Regions from separate parts of the Homo sapiens genome. Here region 1 is linked to region 2. The links come from fine-mapping of genetic effects on gene expression. Tissue or cell type: whole blood. Region 2 holds a variant in brackets; the other region holds the start of a gene. All regions are shown on one strand. Distances are between the middles of the regions. Region 1 holds the start of NECAP1 (NECAP endocytosis associated 1). Region 2 overlaps FOXJ2 (forkhead box J2).

What was found.
Region 1: it holds the start of NECAP1, and the variant in region 2 is fine-mapped to the expression of NECAP1 in whole blood (INTERVAL, PIP 0.98).

What each region holds. Positions count from the first base shown.
Region 1 is chr12:8,077,523-8,085,860 of GRCh38, forward strand. NECAP1 (NECAP endocytosis associated 1) reads left to right here and starts at 4,752. Exons shown (of 8, transcript NM_015509.4): 1 at 4,752-4,861. The coding sequence starts at 4,767. RefSeq lists enhancers at 1-108, 4,014-5,213, 4,645-4,864, 4,935-4,994.
Region 2 is chr12:8,048,509-8,056,846 of GRCh38, forward strand. It overlaps FOXJ2 (forkhead box J2), which reads left to right. Exons shown (of 11, transcript NM_018416.3): 8 at 189-290; 9 at 854-1,063; 10 at 2,014-2,112; 11 at 4,254-7,009. The coding sequence ends at 4,342. It overlaps C3AR1 (complement C3a receptor 1), which reads right to left. Exons shown (of 2, transcript NM_004054.4): 2 at 8,336-8,338. Among named protein-coding and RNA genes, the nearest start is that of C3AR1, 14 kb to the right of the region's middle. The variant A/G (reference allele first, on the strand shown) is at 5,063.

The DNA.
Region 1 (8,338 bases), 29 kb after region 2:
GTCCCAAGTGAGACGTATCCTTTGCTTTTCAGGCTGTAGAACCTGATGTCTTTTCTTCATGAATAGTATTAATACTAAAGTAGCTTTGATCCTAAGTTCTGTAGTTATAGGACTCTCAATCTTTTTTATTTTTTTCTCTCTCTAGGTTTCTAGATTATTGTCATTTAAACTACAAATATTGATTGAACACCTACCATGTGCCAGGCACTGTTCTAGGTGTTGGGGATACAGCAGTAAATAAATCAAAGTTAGAATTCATTACCCCTCAGATTTGAAGATTGTCAAATTTACAAGCAAAGCCAGTTTAACCTGACACAGCAGCTACAGCACAACACTGCAGAGCAAGGAGTAGGTATGGCTAGATTTAGGTCAATGGCTGACTTTAACTGCTATTTGATTAAAATATGAGATCATGGTAAGACCAACACAGCGTTTTCAACTTTAAAAAATGTTCGTTTTTTGAATTGTTGAAATTGATGGAGGCCTTACCTATCTCACAGTGGAAAGAGTGTTAGTTTGTAAATCATGAGATATGAAGTTCTGATCCTGACTGCATCACCAACTATGTCTTTGGATGAGATCTGAACTGAAAGGTTACTAAGGTCCACTCTAGCTAAAAAAAATCCTGTAAACTATGATTCGAATCTCATTACAATTTTTATTACCACTGCATGTGTAGCAACTTCAGGATTTAGGAAAATTATACTTTAACAAATACCATTGATAGCAGTACCCTGAGCAATGATAAGTCAGAATTTAATCTGTGATAAATACCTTTTTGTGTGTGCGTAAAGAAGAGCTGGGAAATATGTTACTGGTAGGGCTAAGTTAAGAAAACCATAAGTTATTTTCATGTTTAAATGACATCTAAAAGTGACCAAGATTTGAGATGGGTAAGGCCTCCATGAATTTCAACAATGCATTTAAAAAAACAAGCTTTTGTTAAACTTGGTTAAATCATATACTTACAAAGCCACATACAAGAACACTAGCTTGACTTAGCACAGTCTACTCAGCCCAGAACCTGTGAGCTGTGTAGCTACTACCCCCCGGTGGTGGGCAAAGATAAGTTCGAGACAAGACATTTTTAATTTTTTTATTTTAGTTTATTTTTTTTTGATACGGAGTCTCATTCAGTAGCCCAGGCTGGAGTGCAGTGGCATGATCTTGACTCACTGCAACCTCCGTCTCCTGGGTTCAAGCAATTCTCCTGCCTTAGCCTCCCAAGTAGCTGGCATTACAGGCATGCACCACTATGACCAGCTAGTTTTTGTATTTTCAGTAGAGACAGGGTTTCAACATGTTAGCCAGGCTGGTCTTGAACTCCTGACCTCAAGTGATCTGCCTGCCTCAGCCTCCCAAGGTGCTGAGGTTACAGGCGTGAGCCACTGTGCCGGCCCAAGACATTTTTAATTATTTTGATTGGGAAAGAACAAATCATCCCTGTTAAGGCAGGCTGAAATGATCATTCATTTAGCAAATAAACATACAGAGTTCTTACTATAGTCTGAAAACTGTGCTAGATACTGGGAAAACACAAACCTGTTTCTTTCCCTTGGAAAACAGAGATGCCAACAAGCAGTTGAATGCAATGTGCTAAGAACTAAAACAGCTGTACAAATGTTGTGGGAGCATAGAGGAGGCAGTTACCAGTTCTATTTAGAGAAGTTGAGGAAAACTTCTGAGATAAATTGATATTTAGATTAGATCTAAAGGCATCTTACCAAGGAATGAACGGGAAGTGCATTTCAGTCTGGACAAATATGTTCAGCATGAATAAAAATGGCATGTATGGAAAATTATGGCAATGTGATCAGTTAAGCTAGAGAAGACATCGTGGGTGAGAGTGAGGAAGACTGTATTTTTTTCTGTTTCTGTTGAGATGAAGCAAGAGAAGGGAAATTTAAATTTATATAAAGAAAAAACATGGTTAAGTAAGGGTTTTTTTTTTTTTTTTTTTTTAGGTGAAAGGACTTGAATATACTTACATGGTGAGGGAAAGGGGTGAATGGAAAATGAGTTTTAAGATACAGGAAAGAAAGGAGATAACTGATTAACCAGGTCCCTGAGGAGATTGGTCCCTGAGGAGAATCCAGGGCACACACAAGTGGATAGGAGAAAGAATAGATGAAGATGCAGATAGGAGTATGAATAGGGTGTCATTAAGTTGAGAGAGTTCACACAAACTTTATTTTCTTAGGGAAGTAGTAAGATGTTTTACCTGTCAAGAAAGAAAAAGAGAAGACTTAGAGTTGAAGGCCTGAAAGGGCAGCAAAATTTGGAACAACCATTAAAGGGAATGAAAATAAAAACTAGCAATGGCAAATCTGGGTGTTAAGGGCAAAGCTGAGACTCAAACCCATAAACTTTTAGGGACACCAATCTTTATAATTGTGTGATTTGCTTTTGGAGAATGATGGAGGGAGATGGTTGGAATATATAAGACTGGAGTCTTTTGGGTTGGCTGTGATGGAAAGACAAAGAGGAAAGGAAACTTAAGGATGCTGGCAAGAGAACTGTTGAAACAAGGAGATGGGAGGAATAAAGAGAAGGCTAACAATGTGCAGAACATGAAGAAGAACAGGTGAGGTAGAAAAGAGAGGTAAAGATAGTTAGAATTTATGTCAAGAGATTGTATGGCTAGGAAGAGTTAACTATATGGGCTTTGAAATCTCTAAAAGATTTGGGAGAAGAGGAAGAGTATAAACTAGTAAGAAGGTGAACCAGAAGCCAGAATCCTCCAAAAATGATTGCCAGTGATAACACAGAACAGAGAAAAAAAAAGAGGTACAATGTGGTGTAGTCATATGACCTAGGCTTCAGATGAGATCATAGGGTCAGAAATAAGGAACAACAAGTAATAAACCACTTTTCTGTCTTTATTTTTCTTTTAACATGTATTCAGTGACAATAATAGCTATATAAATCTTAAACAACAGAGAAATATATGGAGGAGAAAATAAGTTTCTTTCCCCCACTTAGCCTTATATCCTTTGAAAGCCTTCTCAATGCATTTACATGCATGCATATATAATTTTGGGGTGTTTCGACAAAAGTTGATAATGCTGTATGTTTTTTGCAGTTGGCTTTAAAAAATCTTGGATCTCTTTCAATGGCTAACCCTTTAGTTCAAAACATCTCATAGTAATAGATATACCATTAACCATTTCCCATTGATAGATGGTCATTTTGTTTCCATTTTTTTCACTATTACAAACAATGCTGTAGTATTATTGTACATACTTTTTTGTGCATATAAGGATTTCTCTACAATATTTATTAGTGAAACTGCTAAATTGAAGATTACGTCCAATTAATATTTTGATAAATTCTGTTAATTTCCCTTTTAAAAATGCCGTGCCAATTTACATTCCTGCCAACAGTGTATGAGATTAGACTGTTCCTCACGTCCTCGCCAGGGATAAATGTGGTAATTCTTTTTGAAATTTAAGATATCACTTTCCAAGGTGGAGCAGACAAATTAGAGGCAGGTTTGCTTTTTTTTTTTTTCTCATTAAACTTTTTTAATGGGTCTCAAAATTCTGTGACAAATTTTTGGATGTTTCCATTAAAAAGTACTGATTTAAAAAACTAATAACTTAAAACTGCCACACGCAAAAAAGAAAACCAGTGGTCCACAAAACATTCTCCTTTCCTTCTGAAGAAGAAAACCAGTGGTCCACAAAACATTCTCCTTTCCTTCTGAAGGTTTTACGATGCATTGTTTTCATTAACCAGTCTTTTACTACTGAACTTAAATGGCCAGTTGAAACAAACAGTTCTGAGACCGTTCTTCCACCACTGATTAAGAGTGGGGTGGCAGGTATTAGGGATGATATTCATCTAGCCTTCTGAGCTTTCTGGGCAGACTTGGTGACCTTGCCAGCTCCAGCAGCGGTGAAGACTGCTGCTGTTGTAATGAGGCAGGCTTGAGTTTCTGTCTCAGTTTTGCCACTTGCTATCTGTACTGTCAGGGTGTTGTGGTTAAGTTTACCTTTGGGGCGCAGAAAAAGCATATTTATGGTGAGAGTTCGGTAGCATTTATCATTATAATAGAACTGGGAGCTAATATAGGCCATTAGATAGTTCATTATGCTTCCGATTTTATCAGGAATTGGGTTGATCCCACGTATAGTCTATTTAACAGGATCAAATTTTCCAAAAAGATAATCGGAATACACGCCGAAAGTGTGGCAAAACATTTTAACAGGTGTCGTCCTGAAAAATCGGAGATAAAGAGTGTAAGGCACTAAATCAAGTTGGGTGTTTTCAGCGTTTAGACTCTGGAGAGTTGAAATCCACGGTGTCTATGACCAGATCATACATCATTCTCTGCAGGTACCTCGTCTGGGACTACCGGCTGGAGGTTGCCTCTTTTCTGCCAGGAGACTACAGTTAGGAAGTGACTCCTGTAAGAAAATCCGTCACGATTCAATATGGTCCTCGTCCTCGTAGGACACTCCAGGCACCTGCCTAGAGTAAGATGGCGCTTTTCGTAAGCACCTCTCCAGGACAGAGATTTCCATAACGAGAGTCACGCACTTGCAGGCCATCTTTGCCATTATCCAAGACGGTGAGCCGTGCAGCCTCATCGTTTCCAGGTTTCAATATGGCTCCCCGCGTCACCGAAAAGGTTAATCTCAGAAACTAACTTGAACTCGCGCGGAAGTGACGCAACAGAAGTTGTCGCGCTTTGCATCTCCGCCTCCCGTGCTCCGCCTCCGGTCTTACGTTTCGCCCCCGGCAGCGCCGACAGCGGACCCAAGATGGCGACCGAGTTGGAGTACGAGTCTGTGCTGTGTGTGAAGCCAGACGTCAGCGTCTACCGGATTCCGCCCCGGGCCTCCAACCGCGGTTACAGGTACTAACCCCGAGGCGCTGCCGCACACGCGTACTCTGTCGCAGATGACAGCTTCCTTCTCAGCTAGCACGCTGTCCGTCCCTGCCACTACTACCTCTGTATTGTCACCTTGCTAGCCTCCCTACCTGGGTTGTCATCTCCCTGACCACCTGCTCCATCTCCACTCTGGACTGTCATCACCATATTTCTGCCGTTTTTTTTTTTGTTTTGTTTTTTATTAAATTACCACTCTGCGTTATTCCACTCTGCCTCTCCCGTAATCCCCTGGGGCACCCATCTGCTCCCCATCATGCACTTTCAGTCGTGCTTGCTCCATTGCCAGTCCCCTTTCATTCGCTCTTCCCTGCGTCCTTCAGCTTATCATCCTCATCCTTTCTCTCTCTCTCTCTCTCACACACACACACACACACACACACACACACACACACACACACCTTTCCAGTTCCCCATGCACATTTATGGGTAATCGTGTTGCTTGCCACTCTGGATTATCTGATTTATTTTTTGTACTGTTGTCAATTTCGTCACCAACTGTCATCATCCACCATTCGGTTTTTCCTTCAGCAGTTTTACCAGTGAGCAAAGGTTATGATCATAAGCTTTACAACGGTTGTTCATTCTGTTTCTTCTCATTGTATTTTCTTGATGATTATATAGTATTTTCTGTCTTCCTTCCCTACCTCCCTTCTTAACCTCTCCTACACCTTTTCCCTCCAAAGTTGAGGCAGCATTTTTCTCTGTTGGGCCTAACTACCTACCTTGTAATCCAATGACTGTGAGGTTCTGAGGATGCTATAGGACATTATGTAGTTGAAAGACAGTTCACTGGGCTTCATGTTAAACCATATGAGTGTGAGCCCTTTCCAAGCCTCAATTTTCTCATCTGTAAAATAGAAAAAAAAACCTGTTAGTGATGATACCTGCGCTCTTATAATGTGCTTAACAAGGGTTTTTGGGAGAGTAAAATTAAATCATATAATGGATGTGAAAGAATGTAGGAAATGCAATAAAGCAGTTACAAATACTATTTGTTTGTTCTTTTTTTTTTTTTTTTTTTTTTTTTTGAGATGTAGTCTCACTTTGTTGCCCAGGCCGGAGCGCAATGGCTCAATCTCAGCTCACTGCAACCTCCGCCTCCTGGGTTCAAGCGATTCTCCTGCTTCAGCTTCCTGAATAGTTGGGATTACACGCATGCACCACCACACCTGGCTAATTTTTGTATTTTGAGTAGAGATGGGGTTTCACCAAGTTGGCCAGGCTGGTCTTGAACTCCTGACCTTGTGATCTGCCCACCTTGGCCTCCCATAGTACTGGGATTACAGGCGTGACACCACGCCCAGCCGTCGTTTTTTTTTTTTTTTTTTTTTGTTAGAGAGGCAGGGTCTCGTTCTATCATCCAGGCTGGAGTGCAAGTGGTGCAATCACAGCTCACGGCAGCTGTGTACTCCTGGGCACAAGGGATCCTCCTACCTCAGCCTCCCAAGTTGCTAGGGCTACAGGCATTGCCTCACAATGCCTGGCTAATTTTTAAATTTTTTTGTGTAGACAGGATCTTGATATATTTCCCAGGCTGGTCTCGAACTCCTGGCCTTAAGTGATTCTCCTGCCACAGCCTCCCAAAGTGTTGAAATTACAGGTGTGGGCCACTGCACCTGGCCAAGATACTGTTCTTATTCTTCTCTCTGACCCACATCATCATTGTGATTTTTCCTCCTGGCATTTATCATTACCTTGGCTGAAAAGTTACCCTCTCCTTATGTCTGTTATTTTGCCCCTTACTGGCGTTTTATTCATCATGAATCAATATTTTTATGCTTGCTGACCTGTGCGCTGGGCCCTGTGGGTTGCACCTTTGGCAAAGAGGTAGCAGTTCTGTTTTTAATAAGCTTTTAGTTGGACCCCAAACTGACCCTAAGTAGAAATCAACATGCTTTTAGATGGTAGTTACAGGTACTATATGAGTCACTTAAACATCACCTTCTTTGGGAGGCCCTATGTGACCCTTCCATTCTGGTTTAGATATGCACCCTGTGTGCTTCCATAGCACCTTTTTCTTTTTCTTTTTTACTTTAAGTTCTGGGATACATGTGCAGAATGTGCAGGTTTGTTACATAGGTATGCATGTGCCATGGTGGTTTGCTGCACCTATCAACCTGTCATCCTCGCCCCTCCCCCGAGAGGCCCCAGTGTGTGTTGTTCCCCTCCCTGTGCCCATGCGTTCTCACTGTTCAACTCCCACTTGTGAGTGAGAACATGTGGTGTTTGGTTTTCTGTTCCTGCATAGCACTTTATTCTTATCTCTATTCCAGGGCTCTTCATTTTGTATTGTAATGGATTACAGTGGATTGTACAATGGATTGTTTAGTCTCCTTTTTTCTCCAGGCTAGACTGTGAACAACTTGAGATCTTTTTAACTTTATATTCCCAGGGTCTAGCACAGTATCTGGTACACTTTGGGCACCCTGTAAATGTTGACTGAAAGAAGAAATCAGTAGATTACACAGAGAAACCTAATCACATAAAGTGGCATTGATTGAACTGTTAAATAAGGTCAAATAGCTCATTACTTCCAACTTTAGGAGTTAAGACTCCTAAAGGATATGATACATATTGAAGTGGGATTATATTCTTTTTCTTGAAGTTTTTTTTTTTTTGAGATGGAGTCTGGCTGTGTTGCCCAGGCTGGAGTGCGCTGGCGCAATCTCAGCTCGCCACAACCTCCGCCTCCCCGGTTCAAGTGATTTTCCTGCCTCAGCCTCCCAAGTAGCTGGGACTACAGGCACGTGCCACTATGCCCAGCTAATTTTTGTATATTTAGTAGAGACGGGGTTTCACTGTGTTGGCCAGGCTGGTCTCAAACTCTTGACCTCGTGATCCGCCTGCCTTGGCCTCCCAAAGTGCTGGGATTACAGGCGTGAGCCACCGCACCCGGCCTACTTCAAGCTTTTTAAAACACCTCCCCTCTCACCCATCTTCTCTATCTTCACTTCTTAGTTTTCCACAACCTTTATACTTACATCAGTTAACTGCACTGAGCCATTAAAGCAGTTTCTTAATTTTCCTCTTTTTCCTGTTATCCTTCTGTGTTTTCCATGTCTACTGGCATTTTTTATCCTCCAAGAGGCACCTTATCATCAATCACTTTTTTAGTACAGCACATGAAGAGAGCGGAATTAAGTTTGAATAACGATATTTATTTGCTGGGTTACCTTTGGCAAATCACCACTTTTGAATGTTAGTTTCTTCATTTGTAAAAATGACTATAACAATACTTACCTTGTAGGATCCTCTCACTTAATCTTCTTTTTTTTTTTTTTTTTTTTTTTTTTTTTGTTGTTGAGACAGAGTCTCGCTCTGTCACCCAGGCTGGCGTACAATGGTGTGATCATGGCTCACTGCAATCTGTGCCTCCCAGATTCAACTGATTCTCGTGCCTCAGCCTCCTGAGTAGTTGAGATTACAGATGTGCACTGCCAT
Region 2 (8,338 bases):
TGGCTGTACTTAAAGCGTAGCTAGCTTTTCCAGTCCTAAACTCCCAGGGAGGGAGAGTCCAAAACTTGGAAATGCAACTGCTAATCTGTATAGATGCAAGAATCTTGCATGTAGTCAGCCTGGTATCAGTTGACTGCTGTCTTACACTTCACTCTATCTTATTATCCACTTTCCCCTCCTCTTTACAGCCTTTCCTTCTGACTGGTGCTCTAATATTGACTCTTTAAAGGAAAGCTTCAAGATGGTGAATCGGCTCAATTGGTCCAGCATTGAGCAGTCACAATTCTCAGGTTAGTGATCAAAGGACGAAGGAAGAGAGGGATACACTGTAAGGGAAAACCCAGTAGAAACTGGAACCGGAAGGGGGTGGTTAAATGAAGTTGCAGAAATGAGGATTTCATTGTTTTTCTTTCTTTTTACACAAGATGGATCATATTTACATTATTTTCAAATTAACTCAAATTAATCTTGTCTTAACTGAAAATGTGGCAGTGAATAATCCTAGTCCATTCTGTCTTTGGGAGGGAGAAGGCCCTCAGGAATTTAGAGACCGTGGACCACGATTTTGTAGTTTTGTCACCACTCACTGACAGTGTGACCTTGGCTGAGTCACTCAGTCACATTGAAAGTTTATCTTACTCATCAGTAAGATGGCAATTATAAGAATTTGGTAAGGGATCAAATAGAATGAGAGTTTGAAAATGCAGAGCTCTGAAAGATATAAATTGTTATTGTTAGTGCCCGTTATCAGTGGGGGTGATTGATGGTGTGTTTGGAACAGTGAGATAGGGCGGGGTCTGATAGGGGCTTCCTACCTCTGCAAGGTTTGCATTGCTTGCTTCCCTCTTTGTAGAACTGATGGAGAGTCTACGACAGGCAGAGCAGAAGAACTGGACCCTCGACCAGCATCACATTGCCAATCTGTGTGACTCCCTCAACCACTTCCTTACTCAGACTGGTCACGTGCCCCCTCAAGGGGGTACCCACCGCCCACCAGCCCCTGCCCGTATTGCTGACTCCTGTGCCCTCACCAGTGGCAAACAGGAGTCAGCCATGAGCCAAGGTACTGCACCAAGCCAGTTGCCATGGAGGTGGAGACTATGTTGAAAAGGAAGCATAGGAGAAAGGCAAAAGAGAACTGAGAGAAAGGATTTTATGGGGCAGTGACCCAAATTGAGCAGTGGAACTAGTTTATCAGTTGACTGAATATCTGTTGAATCAGTGAAGTCCTAAACTGAAAAATGCAAAAGAAATAGACTGTATGATTCCTTTTTAGACCTCAGTTTGGGAGATCAGAATTGTTTAAGAAAAGGGAGGAGATTTGTTAGAGAAAGGCTGTATTTTAAATTTGCGTCTCAGTAATCCCTACCGCCTGGGTGATACCGGATGAAATGGTGGTTCTATGCTTATGTGATGTTCAAACTAGTGAAATGAGAGAGATGTCATGATTATGTTCCTGTTTCTTGCTTTTTGTTTTTGAGATGGGGTCTCGCTCTGTCGCCCAGGCTCTGGAGTGCAGTGGTGTGATCACGGCTCACTGCAACCTTGACCCCTGGAGCTCAGGTGATCCTCCCACTTTAGCCTCCTGAGTAGCTGGGACTACAGGTGTGTACCACCATGCCCAGCTAATTTTTTTTTTGTATTTTGTGTATAGCTGGGGTTTCACCGTGTCGCCCAGGCTATCTTCAAACTCTTGGACTCAAGGGATCTACCCACCTCGGCTGCCCAAAGTGTTGGGATTACAGGCATGAGCCACCATACCTGGCCCTGTGTTTCTATATTTTTCTTCCTTATATCTTTCCTATTTCACAATTGTACTATCCATTTCTTTTTACCCTCAGTGGTGAGGACTGACAGCTTCTGCAGAAAGCCTTCATGCCTGCAGGAGCTACAGAACAGGGCAGGGAAGAGAGAAGGAGGATGGGAGCAAGGGTATATTTTTTTCTTCCCTGCTTTGTTGAGTACAGTGACCCGCCCCCCCCAACTCAAGTAACTCTTGTCTTGCTTTGGCAGTGAACTCTTATGGGCACCCACAAGCTCCCCACCTCTACCCTGGCCCATCACCAATGTACCCAATCCCCACCCAGGACTCAGCAGGATACAATCGCCCAGGTAAGAGCTAAGAAGCTTGTTTCAAAACCGTTGTACTCTGATGAGTTGCTTTGCTTTCCTTTGACTCTGAGCTGGCATTCTGTGCATTTTTGCCTGCATCTCGCTGGAGGGAATGAGCCTTTATAATTCCCAAGGCTGGAGGATGGGTTACCTGCTAAGAAGGTGTGTGTCGGGGAGACTAACGAAGACAGTGTCCCCTCCCCTCCCTTCCCCTCCCTTCCTTTCCCTTCCCCTTCCCTTCCCTTCCCCTTCCCTTCCCCTTCCCTTCCCCTTCCCTTCCCCTTCCCTTCCCTTTCCTTCCCCTTCCCTTCCCCTTCCCCTTCCCTTCCCCTTCCTTTCCTCTTCCCTTCCCCTCCCTTCCCTTCCCCTTCCCTTCCCTTTCCTTCCCCTTCCCTTTCCCTTCCCTTCCCTTTCCTTCCCCTTCCCCTTCCCTTGCCCTTCCTTTCCCCTTCCCTTCCATTCCCTTTCCCTTCCCTTCCCCTTCCCCTTCCCTTCCCTTCCCTTTCCCTTCCCCTTTTCTTTTCTTTTCAACAGAGTCTCGCTCTGTTGCCCAGGCTGGAGTACAGTGGTGCGATCTCAGCTCACTACAACCTCCACCTCCTGGGTTGAAATGATTCTCCTGCTTGAGCCTCTCAACTAGCTGGGACTACAGACCCACACCACCATGCCTGGCTAATTTTTGTATTTTTAGTAGAGACGGGGTTTTGCCATGTTGGCTAGGCTTGTCTTGAACTCCTGACCACAAGTGATCCACCTGCCTCTGCCTCCCAAAGTGCTGGGATTACAGGCGTGATCCACTGGCCCCGGCTAGATGTACTTTAAAATTAGCAACTGCAATAGTAAAAGGAAGTGAAAGCATACATATAAGCAAAAGATAGCTATGTGCAACATTTTTGTGTGGCTTTGGAATCTAGATGGAAGATGTGCTCAGGCAAATAAAATGAATTTGTTATCCACACATACTTGCTGTGTGCCCATGTCTGCTTTCCTGTCACCTGATCTCTAGAATCAGGGGTCTGGGACTGAAGTATCTCTGATAGTGGGGGTGGGGCAGGGAGACACTAAATTGCCACAGACAGAACAAAATGAACAGGTCCTTCACATTTAGACACATAGAAAAATCACTGTTATTCTGCCTAACCACACGTGTTTTCAATTTTGGGGGTGACATCTGACTCTCTCTATTCTTTGTCCATATAATATAAATACAGATTTCTATACTGCTATTTCATGTGATATTATCTTCTGTTTGTTTGTTTGAGTCAGAGTCTTTTTCTGTTGCCCAGGCTGGAGTGCAGTAGGCAATGGTGTGATCCTGGCTCACTGCAACCTCCGCCTCCCAGGTTCAAGTGATTCTCGAGCCTCAGCCTCCCGAGCAGCTGGGATCACAGGCGCCCGCCACTGTGCCTGGCTAATTTTTATTTTTTAGTAGAGACAGGGTTTCACCATGTTGGCCAGTCTGGTCTAGAACTCCTGACCTCAAGTGATCCACCCATCTCGGCCTCTCAAAGTGCTGGGATTATAGGCATGAGCCACCACGCCCAGCCATATGATATTATCTTCTGTATGTTATTTTATCATTATCATATGTTTTCAGAAGTACAATTTTTTTTTTTTTTTGAGACGGAGTCTCGCTCTATCGCCCAGGCTGGAGTGCAATGGCACGGTCTTAGCTCACTGCAAGACCTCCCGGGTTCATGCCATTCTCCTGCTTCAGCCTCCCGAGTAGCTGGGACTACAGGCACATGTGACCACACCCAGCTAATTTTTTGAGTTTTTAGTAGAGATGGGGTTTCTCCATGTTGGCCAGGCTGGTCTCGAATTCCTGACCTCGTGATCCGCCTGCCTTGGCCTCCCAAAGTGCTGGGATAACAAGTGTGAGCAACTGTGCCTGGCGTCAGAAGTATAATTGTTAATGGCAGCATAATATTTAATTGCTGTGGAATGTAATTTACTCTAGTTTATTTCCTGAGACCTCACTGAAATGGTGACCTGCAACCAAAATTAACTCCAGCTGATAAGGGCGATAGCCTCACAAGGCCTTCTTCGTGGTGTTATCTGGGGCTGAGCACTGTCCTTGTAAATTGAGGGAACAGCTTCCCATCCACTCTCCTTTTACTCTCTTTCTTTCTTTCTAACAGCACACCATATGGTCCCTCGGCCATCAGTGCCACCTCCTGGTGCCAATGAGGAGATCCCTGATGACTTCGACTGGGACTTGATCACTTAGTGCATCACAGAGTGTGGACATCAGCCCAGGGCCGCGTGGTGAAATCTGGCAGTGGGGAAAGAGCAACCCCAGCCCGTCCCTTCCCCCCGTCTGTATATAGACATATATCCTCTTTTTGTTCTTTCTCTGTCAGAGAAGCCACTGCAAGATGCTGCCGAAGATAACCCTCTCTTTCCTGCCTCATTCTTCTCTCTTCCTTCCTGTTTTTTCCTAGTTCTTTTATTATTATTCTTATATTATTATTATTATTATTGGTTATATACTGTCCATAGTCTCCTGTCCCTACATCATGGATCATGTCCACCTTTTGCTAATTTAAAATCATCAGGCTGGAAGATGAAGCCATGATAGCTACAGAGAAAGGTTTTAGACTCCAGTTTACCTTTCTCTTGGAGAAACTCAATGCTAATCCCACCTTTTGGCCCTAAATTGTTTTTTGTTCCCATCAGTTTCAGGCCAGGACTGGAGAGGCCACATTACCAAGTAGAAAGGGTCTGAAACATTACTTGGCAGCCAAGAATTTGGAGGTTTTAAAATGGTGCTAATTCTGTCCTCTGAGGTCTTCCTTGTCCCTTTATACCTTCAATCCTTACTTCTGCCAGTCTGTATTTCCTATCAAGGGTGAAAGTGATGATGGTGGTGCAGGAGGGTGACAATAAAATCCTAGTGGAATTGGAGACCATTGGAAGGGATGGAATATAAGTCAGTGTGAAACTGAGT[A/G]TACACTGCCATGTTACATCAGTGTCCATTGGCTTGTTTTGAGCCTGTTCTCTAAGAAGATAGGATTGGTTTTAGCCCAAACTCTGCTTCTATGGTAGGGCATGAGGACAACTATTCAGCATGGTTTTAGCTTCTTGGAGATGATTCCAACTTAACTATTTTGGCTTTTTAAACATAATTTTCTCTGAAAATTAATTGTGGCTCTTATTTGCATTTACGAATGATCTTCCCATCCCTTTTTCCCATTCAGCAAATATTAGTTTGTCCTCCTTTAATTGTTTGCCCAAATCTTCCACCCATCTTTTTTCTTCCCTCATTTTCTGGGATTCTCAAGAAAGAAAAAGTAACCCATTATCACTCTGAGTTTCGTCGTGCCCTGAGACATGATGGGAATCTCATTCCCACCTCTCATAGCAGAGCCAAACCTTTAGTGTTGGTGGTAGGAGGATGGGGAGAGGAAAAAAGAGCTGGCAAAGAAATGGATAGGGAATATTTTAGTTCTTTAAATATATAGGCAGATGCTTCTCTTGGAATCCAGATCATCTGGCTGAAGCTTTTGCAAGTAGGCTTTGAGGGGTGAAGGAGATTGGTGGAGGAGAGTAAATAATCTAGAGGCAAGAGTTCAGTGAGGGCCAAGGGGGACCCCCAGAAAAAGGTATGGAGCTAACTCATCTCTTTTACAAGGGGTGGCCATGACTTACTGTTGCAAAGTACTCAGTGTATATTTAATGTTGATTGTTGAATTTTAGTTACGAGAGGGAAGAACAATTTTACTTCTGTCCTTATTTCACTTGCTGAAAAGCTGTGGGACAAAATGTATGGAATAGACAAGGCCACTTTCTTTGTGATTTCTGCTTTTCATGCATATTATTTTATTTACCCATAATTTCCAAGAGGTTTGGCGTTCCGCTCTCCTGCTTTTTTCTTTCATCCACCCCTTTCCTTTTTTTGGAAGGGGGTTATATATGAGAGTTCATTGAAGAAGTCCAGTGAGGCTGAAGTAAAGGGGCAAGATAGGGCAGTTAACTAAAGAGCACTTTATTTCTTTGAAGCCTTTCTAAGAAAGAAATGGGGGTGCGAGTGGCTTGAATCTCCCATGATGTTGGAGGGCACTTAGTGGGGTTGAAGTATGACATAATATTTCCCATTGGGGAAAGGAGAATTTCTCTTAGAGGGTGGCAAAATGCCTTTGCCCAGTGTCCCTATTTTAGGCATCTTTTCCTTCCTTATTCCTTCCAGTCAGGGTGTGTCCTATACAAAACTTCCCATCAGTTCTCCTCAATATTCCCCATTTGTAAATGATCACTTCTCTTTTCTAAACCCTTTTCCTGTTCAGATCCATACAGGATTTGCAAGGGTAGGATCATACATGCAAATGCCCCTTGTTCATCTGTGTCTTCTGCAAACTAGTCTCATGAAGAATTCTGGCGTGCAGCCAGGGTAGCTGAAGTTTGGGTCTGGGACTGGAGATTGGCCATTAGGCCTCCTGAGATTCCAGCTCCCTTCCACCAAGCCCAGTCTTGCTACGTGGCACAGGGCAAACCTGACTCCCTTTGGGCCTCAGTTTCCCCTCCCCTTCATGAAATGAAAAGAATACTACTTTTTCTTGTTGGTCTAGCATTGCTGGACACAAAGTGTAGTCATTATTGTTGTATTGGGTGATGTGTGCAAAACTGCAGAAGCTCACTGCCTATAAGAGGAAATAAGAGAGAAAGTGGAGGAGAGGGACAAAAGGAGTAATTATTTGGTATAGATCCACCCATCCCAACCTTTCTCTCCTCAGTCCCTGCTCCTCATGTTTCTGGTTTGGTGAGTCCTTTGTGCCACCACCCATAATGCTTTGCATTGCTGCATCCTGGGAAGGGGGTATATGGTCTCACAAGTTGTTGTCATTGTTTTTTTGCATGCTTTCTTAATAAAAAAAAAAAAAGAATGTTTACAGTTTTATCTTACTGGTAGTGGTCTCAAGTTTCTTTTGGCCAGGGAAGGAAAAGAGAAACGTGAAAGAATTTAGTCTCAGTTCGTCTTTATTCCTCTTCCACCTTCCACCACTGGGTTGAATTAGTTGACCCTGACACGTTTTGTGACCTTGGTGGGAAAGAAGAATCAAAGGCACGTCCTTAACGTGCCTCTTTTCAAATGCTATCAAGTATGATGACATATTGCGGGAGAGTCAGTCACCCCTTGTAGGTTGGTATATGGAGTAGGCCCACCTTGCTTGCATTTTAGGATAGTTTAAAGATTTAAGATATTATACTTTGGGGCTGGGCGTGGTGGCTCATGCCTATAATCCCAGCAGTTTGGGAGGCCGAGGCAGGCAGATCACCTGAGGTCAGGAGTTCGAGCTCAGCCTGACCAACATGGTAAAACCCCGTCTCTACTAAAAACACAAAATTAGCCGGGCGTGGTGGTGCATGCCTGTTATCCCAGCTACTCTGGAGGCTGAGGCAGGAGAATCGTTTGAACCTGGAAGGCGGAGGTTATAGTAAGCCAAGACTGCACTGTTGCACTCCAGCCTGGGTGACAAGAACGAAACTCTCTCTCAAAAAGAAAAGATATTGGTTGGGCGCGGTGGGTCACACCTGTAATCCCAGCACTTTGGGAGGCCGAGGTGGGCAGATCACAAGGTCAGGAGTTCGAGACCAGCCTGGCCAACATGGTGAAACCTCATCTCTACTATAAATACAAAAATTAGCCGGGTGTGGTGGCAGGCGCCTGTAATCCCAGCTACTTGAGAGGCTGAGGCAGAAGAATTGCTTGAACCCGAGAGGTGGAGGTTGCAGTGAGCTGAGATCGTGCCAAGTGTGCCACTGTGCTCTAGCCTGGGCTACAGAGTGATACTTCATCTCAAAAAAAAAAAGAAAAGATATTATACTTTGGACAGGAGCTGTGTTCCCATCTGGGACTTCCTGGAGAAGATACAGTACAAAATAGTTACAGGTACTCACCAGGTTTTCATCAGAAATGAGGGAGCTCTAATTGTAGGAATTTCTTCAGAATACATTTCCAAAGCAAATGGAAAAGAAAAGGAGTCCAGAAATGCTGATTACTCGTTGTACATTAAATCTTTATAACTGCGTCAAGATTATTCACCTTGATATCCTATACACTAACCCCAGGAGTTTAGGTCTTATTCCCAGGGTCTTATGGGATGTGCTGGGGTTTCTGGAAGCCTGGCTAATTGCTATTATAGCAAGTCTATAGTCACTCACTAGGAGACTTATTTGCTGCATATTTAGAGATGTGATATATTCTGAATGTGAAACAAAAGGATTC